2 separate regions of the Homo sapiens genome follow, and region 2 is linked to region 1. The links come from fine-mapping of genetic effects on gene expression. A gene starts in region 1. The other region holds a variant in brackets. All regions are shown on one strand. Distances are between the middles of the regions. Region 1 holds the start of LINC01303 (long intergenic non-protein coding RNA 1303). Region 2 overlaps LINC01303 (long intergenic non-protein coding RNA 1303).

What was found.
Region 2: its variant is fine-mapped to the expression of LINC01303 in whole blood (TOPMed, PIP 0.96).

The regions. Positions count from the first base shown.
Region 1 is chr14:61,569,119-61,572,032 of GRCh38, forward strand. It overlaps LINC01303 (long intergenic non-protein coding RNA 1303), which reads right to left and starts at 1,535. Exons shown (of 5, transcript NR_110416.1): 1 at 1,368-1,535; 2 at 426-559. LINC03033 (long intergenic non-protein coding RNA 3033) reads left to right here and starts at 1,422. Exons shown (of 3, transcript NR_039985.1): 1 at 1,422-1,642. RefSeq lists an enhancer at 1-128 and a silencer at 520-712.
Region 2 is chr14:61,564,032-61,566,945 of GRCh38, forward strand. It overlaps LINC01303 (long intergenic non-protein coding RNA 1303), which reads right to left. Exons shown (of 5, transcript NR_110416.1): 3 at 1,289-1,357; 4 at 1-1,210. Among named protein-coding and RNA genes, the nearest start is that of LINC03033, 5.1 kb to the right of the region's middle. The variant A/C (reference allele first, on the strand shown) is at 1,376.

The sequences.
Region 1 (2,914 bases):
GAATCACTGAATTGACTGCAGCTCGGCTTCTGCTCTGTAAAATGGGGCTGTTGCTAGCTGAGCCTCTTCTGCCTCTGGTAGAAAATGATTCCAAGTGGCTGCCCTGTCCACCCTAATCCCATGGCCCGAACTTGATGTCTGCTGCTTCTAGAAGCCTAGTGCTCCAAATATCTGCTCTGGGAGGGACTTGCAGATGATCCTGATTGGAAATGAGGCTGATTAACCTTTTGTGTATCATTGACTCTAGGACAATCTGTTGAAACCTAGGGGCTCTTACCCTAGACAAATTAACACACCAGCCAGATACAGCTTACAAGGGCAGAGAGTTGCTGGTTTGAACCACAGACCCCTGGTTTAACATCTGTAATCTAGTCAACCCCTCCTCTTTCTTGAAGGCTGAACCAAACACGAAGGGTTTTCCCCACCTTCCAATCCTCATACATGCAGACACCCCCTTTTCCTGCTTTCTCCTTCAGTCATCTTCCTCACCATCCCCCATGCTTGGGCACTCTCAGGAGGGAAATTGTCCTATAAATATCTGTAAAAGGCATGGTATGTCCTGTAGCAGAGAAAGCAAAAAATAAAAATATAATTCCTCCACCCCTGGCATGGCACGTGCAGAGCTCTGCCTGATCCTTCTCTCCCACAAGCCTCGGGGGTGGGTAAACAAAAGTGAGAGGTGAAGCTGCTGCAGCGAAGTACCCCTTCAAAATCTTCAGTACCCTTCAGAGCCAGCGCTGTCATCACTATCACATAAACTGTACAACTCCAACGTCAACCAGCAGCCGCCTGGCTGGCAGCAGGAAGAGCCAATGCAATTTTGCACAGTGGCTTGCTTGCCCAAGGTATTGCCTGGCAAATGGGCTTCTTGTGCAATGGGGAACCACAGGGAGGGGCCTCTTAAATGTACCTCAAAGAAACAGCTCTAACAATGGATGATTCAACAGGCTAGTAATTGGCGCTCACTCTTACCACATTGTTTTGATAAAACGACATAGCCCAACTGGGGATATGAAGGCAGTAAGTAGAAAAGCTAACCTCTTGCTACTCAAATTGTGGCTGAGAACCAGCGACATCCCATCACCAGAAGCTTTATAGAAAAGCCAGGCTCTGTCCCAGACCTATTGAAAGGAGATCTGCATTTTAACATGATTGCGAGAGGATCCACATCTTAAAGTTTCAGAGGCCTAATCCAAAGTCTTCTGATAATGATCATTAGAGTCCCAGCCACCCCCGACTTCCCCCTGGGAAAACCACAACAAATAGAACAAATTCCTCCAAGCTCTGCTCATAAGAAGAACCCACAACCCACAGACACCCCCTCACTCAACTAGAGACCTCACCCACCTGTTTGCAGAGTCACCCACCTTGGGCTACTTCTTTTCTACTATTTAATCTTCTGGGAAAACAGAGGTCTTCTATTTGGAGATAAAAATGACAAAGGAGAACCTCCTGAACAGCATCCAGTTTGCTTTTAGCTTTAGCCATCTCTCTGACCTCAGTGCTGCTGGACTCAGTTCCAAGATCTAACTGTCAAATGCTTTAGGGGAAACGGGAAGAGAAGTCCCTGGAGTAACCCATGTGCGCAGCCTGGCACTGTTTTCACTTGCCTTTGGAAATGAAGGTGCAGAAACCATGGGAGGTAAGGAGGGCACAGACTAGTGACTTCCAGTGTGGGACAGAGGGGAAAAGATGGAAGAGAAGTGCAGAAAACCACTCGGGAAAAGACAGGCTGGAGTGATGCCTGCTGAGACAGGGCCCTGATCTCCCAGGACTTCCCTTTCTGCCTGTTCTGTAGAAATGTCTCGGGTTTTGTGGTTTAGGAAAAGAGATGCTTAGCAAGCTTGTAGAAAATGTAATGTGGGCACTTTGTTGCTGTCCTGGCTTTTAAAGGACTCTGAAGCAGATCAGCTTCAAGGTATTGGCTATTCTGTTTGCAGCCTTAGAAAGACATCCTTGATGTTTTATTGTTCTGCCTTTGCTAAGAGCTGGAAACTCTCCCTGGGGAAATGGCTCACCTTGAAAGAGATGCTATCGTAGCTGAAAATGTTTTAGCTTCACTTCCAATCTCTGGTTCCTTGTGGGAAGTAACTGCTGCTGTGGTATATATGCCCTGTGCCTTTTATTTTTACCATCTTTACCTCGGTGGACACAGCTGGTTGAAACTCAGTAAAACTTATGCTTCCATGGAGATTGATTCAGACAACAGGAAAAATAAGTGTAGAAAAAAACTGCACAGTACAAGGGCTAGATTCAGGTTGTAGAACAAAGTGATTATTACTTAGAATCCTGGATTAGCAAGAGAATAAGAAAGATGCTGAGATTACCTAGTGTTATCACCATCCACGTGAAACGTAGAATAAAACTTTTTCCCCACCACATAGATATTGGGCAGTTTATTATAGATGCTACAAAGGGATTTATTATATTTTTCCCAAAATGGTTAATTAGAGGCATCCCAAATTACAACTCCTTTAGCATAACTCCCAGCTCCATGCAGCCTACTTACTAAGGACCCAGCTACTGACAGCTCAGCTCTTTGCCAATCCAACTTTTTTTCCCCATATGCTCAAACTTTTCTTCTCCAAGAAGACTTCCTGAATGATCCCAATTCATAGGGATCTCATCCTTAATGCAGGGGAAATTCACTGTTCTGGAGTAGTCTACCATACCATCACGCTCTTCTTTTTGTGTAATCCTGGATTTCTTCTCCAGTTGTTTTATTCTTGCCTGTCTACACAGATAGATCAGTAGCCTTCAATAGTCTGCATCTCCTGTTATCTTGCAGCCTCCTACTATAAACAGTAGGTGCTTTACTTATGCCAGTTGGGTTGACCTAGACAGTAGTCTCTAAGTAGCAGTCCTTGGCTCATCCTTCTGAAACCAACGAGCTCTTAGGCAGGCTGAGAAAGGG
Region 2 (2,914 bases), 5.1 kb before region 1:
TCTGGTTCCTCCTCAGTAAAGTAGATGGAAGAACTGGGTCTCTGGGGTTTGGGTAGTTCTCATGTCTAGAAATCTGGATCTGGCCAGGGCCTGGCTCATGATTCCCCTCCTGCATGTGCTGACTCTGCCCAGCCCCAGTGGAAGAGTCAGCATGCAGGGGAGGAATAACGAGGCAGGCCCTGTGCTTCTCCTGGTCCTCAGGCAGTTATTGTTTGTGAATGTGTGATATGGAGAGGTAGAGAGAGATCTGAATCTAGAAATGAATTAGAAACATATTAGGAGAAGCCAGAGCCTTCAACAGAAATGAAGCCCGTCCTTTGAGTGCCTGTCCCTGGCAAGTTGAAGGTGGAGTCCCTCTGTCAGGAGCTCAGTTGAACTGGGAGAGGGAGCGCTGAGCTGCCAGGTGTCACAATAGTCAATTAAGGCAACAAGCCCAAAACAAAAGAGTCAAGCTTTCAGTCATGTCCTGCAATGGTATAAGCAAGTATCTGAAACCAGAGAAAGCGTGGACTCTCCCTGTTCCATTTCCCCCATGGAACACACAGGGGCCCAGGGTCAAGTAGATCAGCAGGAATGTCGGGTTGGGGTGGTCTCACTGCTGACAGAGCCCTGAACAAAAGGCTCTGGAAGTTTTATGGACTCTGGGGCCGAGAGCAAGGGAGGGGGAAGGCTAGGAGTGGAAGTACTAGATTCTGAGTCATTGTGGGGAAAAGCGGCTTCAAGATTTCTCTCCCTTCCCTGCCCCACCCAAAGAAGGCCTCAGCAGAGGCGCCTAAAGAACACCTCTCCCCAAGGCTTCTGATAAACCCAGGAATGAAGGCTCAGGGGCTAGGAATGCAAATATGTGATGACTACGACCAGCCAGAGAGACCTGAGACCTTGAGAGCTCCCTCCAGAGACTGCCACGCATGGGCTGTGCCCCAAGTCTGGGGTAGGGGTCAGCTTTCCCCAAGTTTGTGGTCAGGCCTGAAAAATCACACACAAGTTTTTCACCAGGAGGCCCAGGGAGATACTATGTGGCCTCTTCTCCCACCTACCTCTTCTGAGCCACGCTTTCCAGCTGTCAGGCAAGTATCAGGGCACCTACCTCTGCACAGAAGGGCAGTGACTTTCTCCAGGTGGAAATCGCTTTTCATCCAAATGTCTAGGCTCAAATCTCTTGGTTCCTGCATTTTAAGTTATGGGTATCTCTGGGAAATAATTGAGAGGACTAAGTACAAACACCCATCAAGCCTTCACATTATTGGCATGTATAAGATTCTGTTAGGTCAAGTGGCATCCTCCTTACCCTTTTTCTGAGGATGACCATGTGTTAATTGCTACAGACCAGAACTGTCTTCCTGAAAGTTGTCCAGGGCTGTGGGAAAAAAGTTGA[A/C]TATTTCAGTGCAAGTTCTATTGACACTAAAGCTAACACTGAATCACTCACTTATCCCAGCCTATGCTATTTTTTTTTTTTTTTTTTTGACAGGGTCTTACCCTGTCACCCAGGGTGGTTGGAGTGGCATGATCTTGGCTCACTGCAACCTCTGCCTCCTGGGTTCAAGAGATTCTCCCACCTTAGCCTCCTGAGTAGCTGGGACTACAGGCACATGCCACCACATCTGGCTAATTTTTGTATTTTGGTAGAGACAGGGTTTTGCCATGTTGGCCAGGCTGGTCTTGAACTCCTAACCTCAAGTGATCCACCACCTCAACCTCCCAAAGTGCTGGATTACAGGCAGGAGCCACTGCGCCTGGCCTAGCCTATACTGTTTTCTTTATATTATATACTTATATGTCCTGTCTTTTCTATCAGATTGTAAGCTTCCTGAGGACAAAGATGATGCCTTACATGTCTATATGGCACCCAGAGTATTTTGCTCTCAAATACATACTGCTCAGATAAGCTTTCAGGATATAGAACTTCAGATACCCACAAAACCATCTCTTCTAGTGTTGTCTGGAAATAAGTCTTGTGTTTATTCACTTTTACGTATAACTGTATCTCATCTTTCCAGGAAGATTGGAAACATATTCATGTTTAAGGCATCACAGTAGCTGACTCATCATTAGCTGTCAACAAATAAATACTTCACAATTAGATTTCTGGGAACAGTCTTCACCAAGAGACAGAAAGTTAACTGGAACTAAAATTTTAATCCCCTCAAACTCCAAGGAGACCTGTTTTCCAGGCATGATCCAACAGAACCGCTGCTTTTTAGAGTACCTTGGAGAGGCTATTTCTGAGGACAGCAAGCTAACAGGATCACCCCCCACCACCCTTTGCTTCAATTTGCCCTAGTACTCAGACTTAATTGGTGGGGACATGGGCATGTGTATAAAGCACGTGGAGATTATTTGTTATAATTCATCAGGGCTACCATTTGAAATTGGCCAGCACAATCATCCCTACTTGACCATAGTAATCAAGATGTGGCTGAGAAAGAAGGAGTGTTTGTTTCAACAAGCCAGAGAGCTGGTCTTCTGCTTTCTAAATGGACAATTTATAAAATTTAGATAGAGAGGCATCTTCCACTCTAGGCATGTACAACCCACCCCGCCATCCCAGTACATTCTTCTCTTTCCTTACATTTACCCATCCCTCCTGCCCCTCCTGCTTTCTTGAAGGTGAGTGAGCAGGTCCCAGGCTTACAGCTCAGTTGGACTGCGGTTGCCCTGTCTTCTCTGGTGATTTCTCTGTCTTATGGTCAGGAGCCAGACTCTGAGTCTGTTCAACTATGTAGAGGAAAGGTCACTAGAGAAATTCCACTTCAGCATTCCTCTAGGGATCAGAGATTCTGACTGCTCAACAAAATTACCTGGAGGAGAATTTTAATAATATGGCTTCCTGGAACTTACCCTGAAACATTCTGATTCAGTCAGTCTGGGGTGAAGATCAATTGGCTATATTTTTCTAAATCTTTATAGATGATTC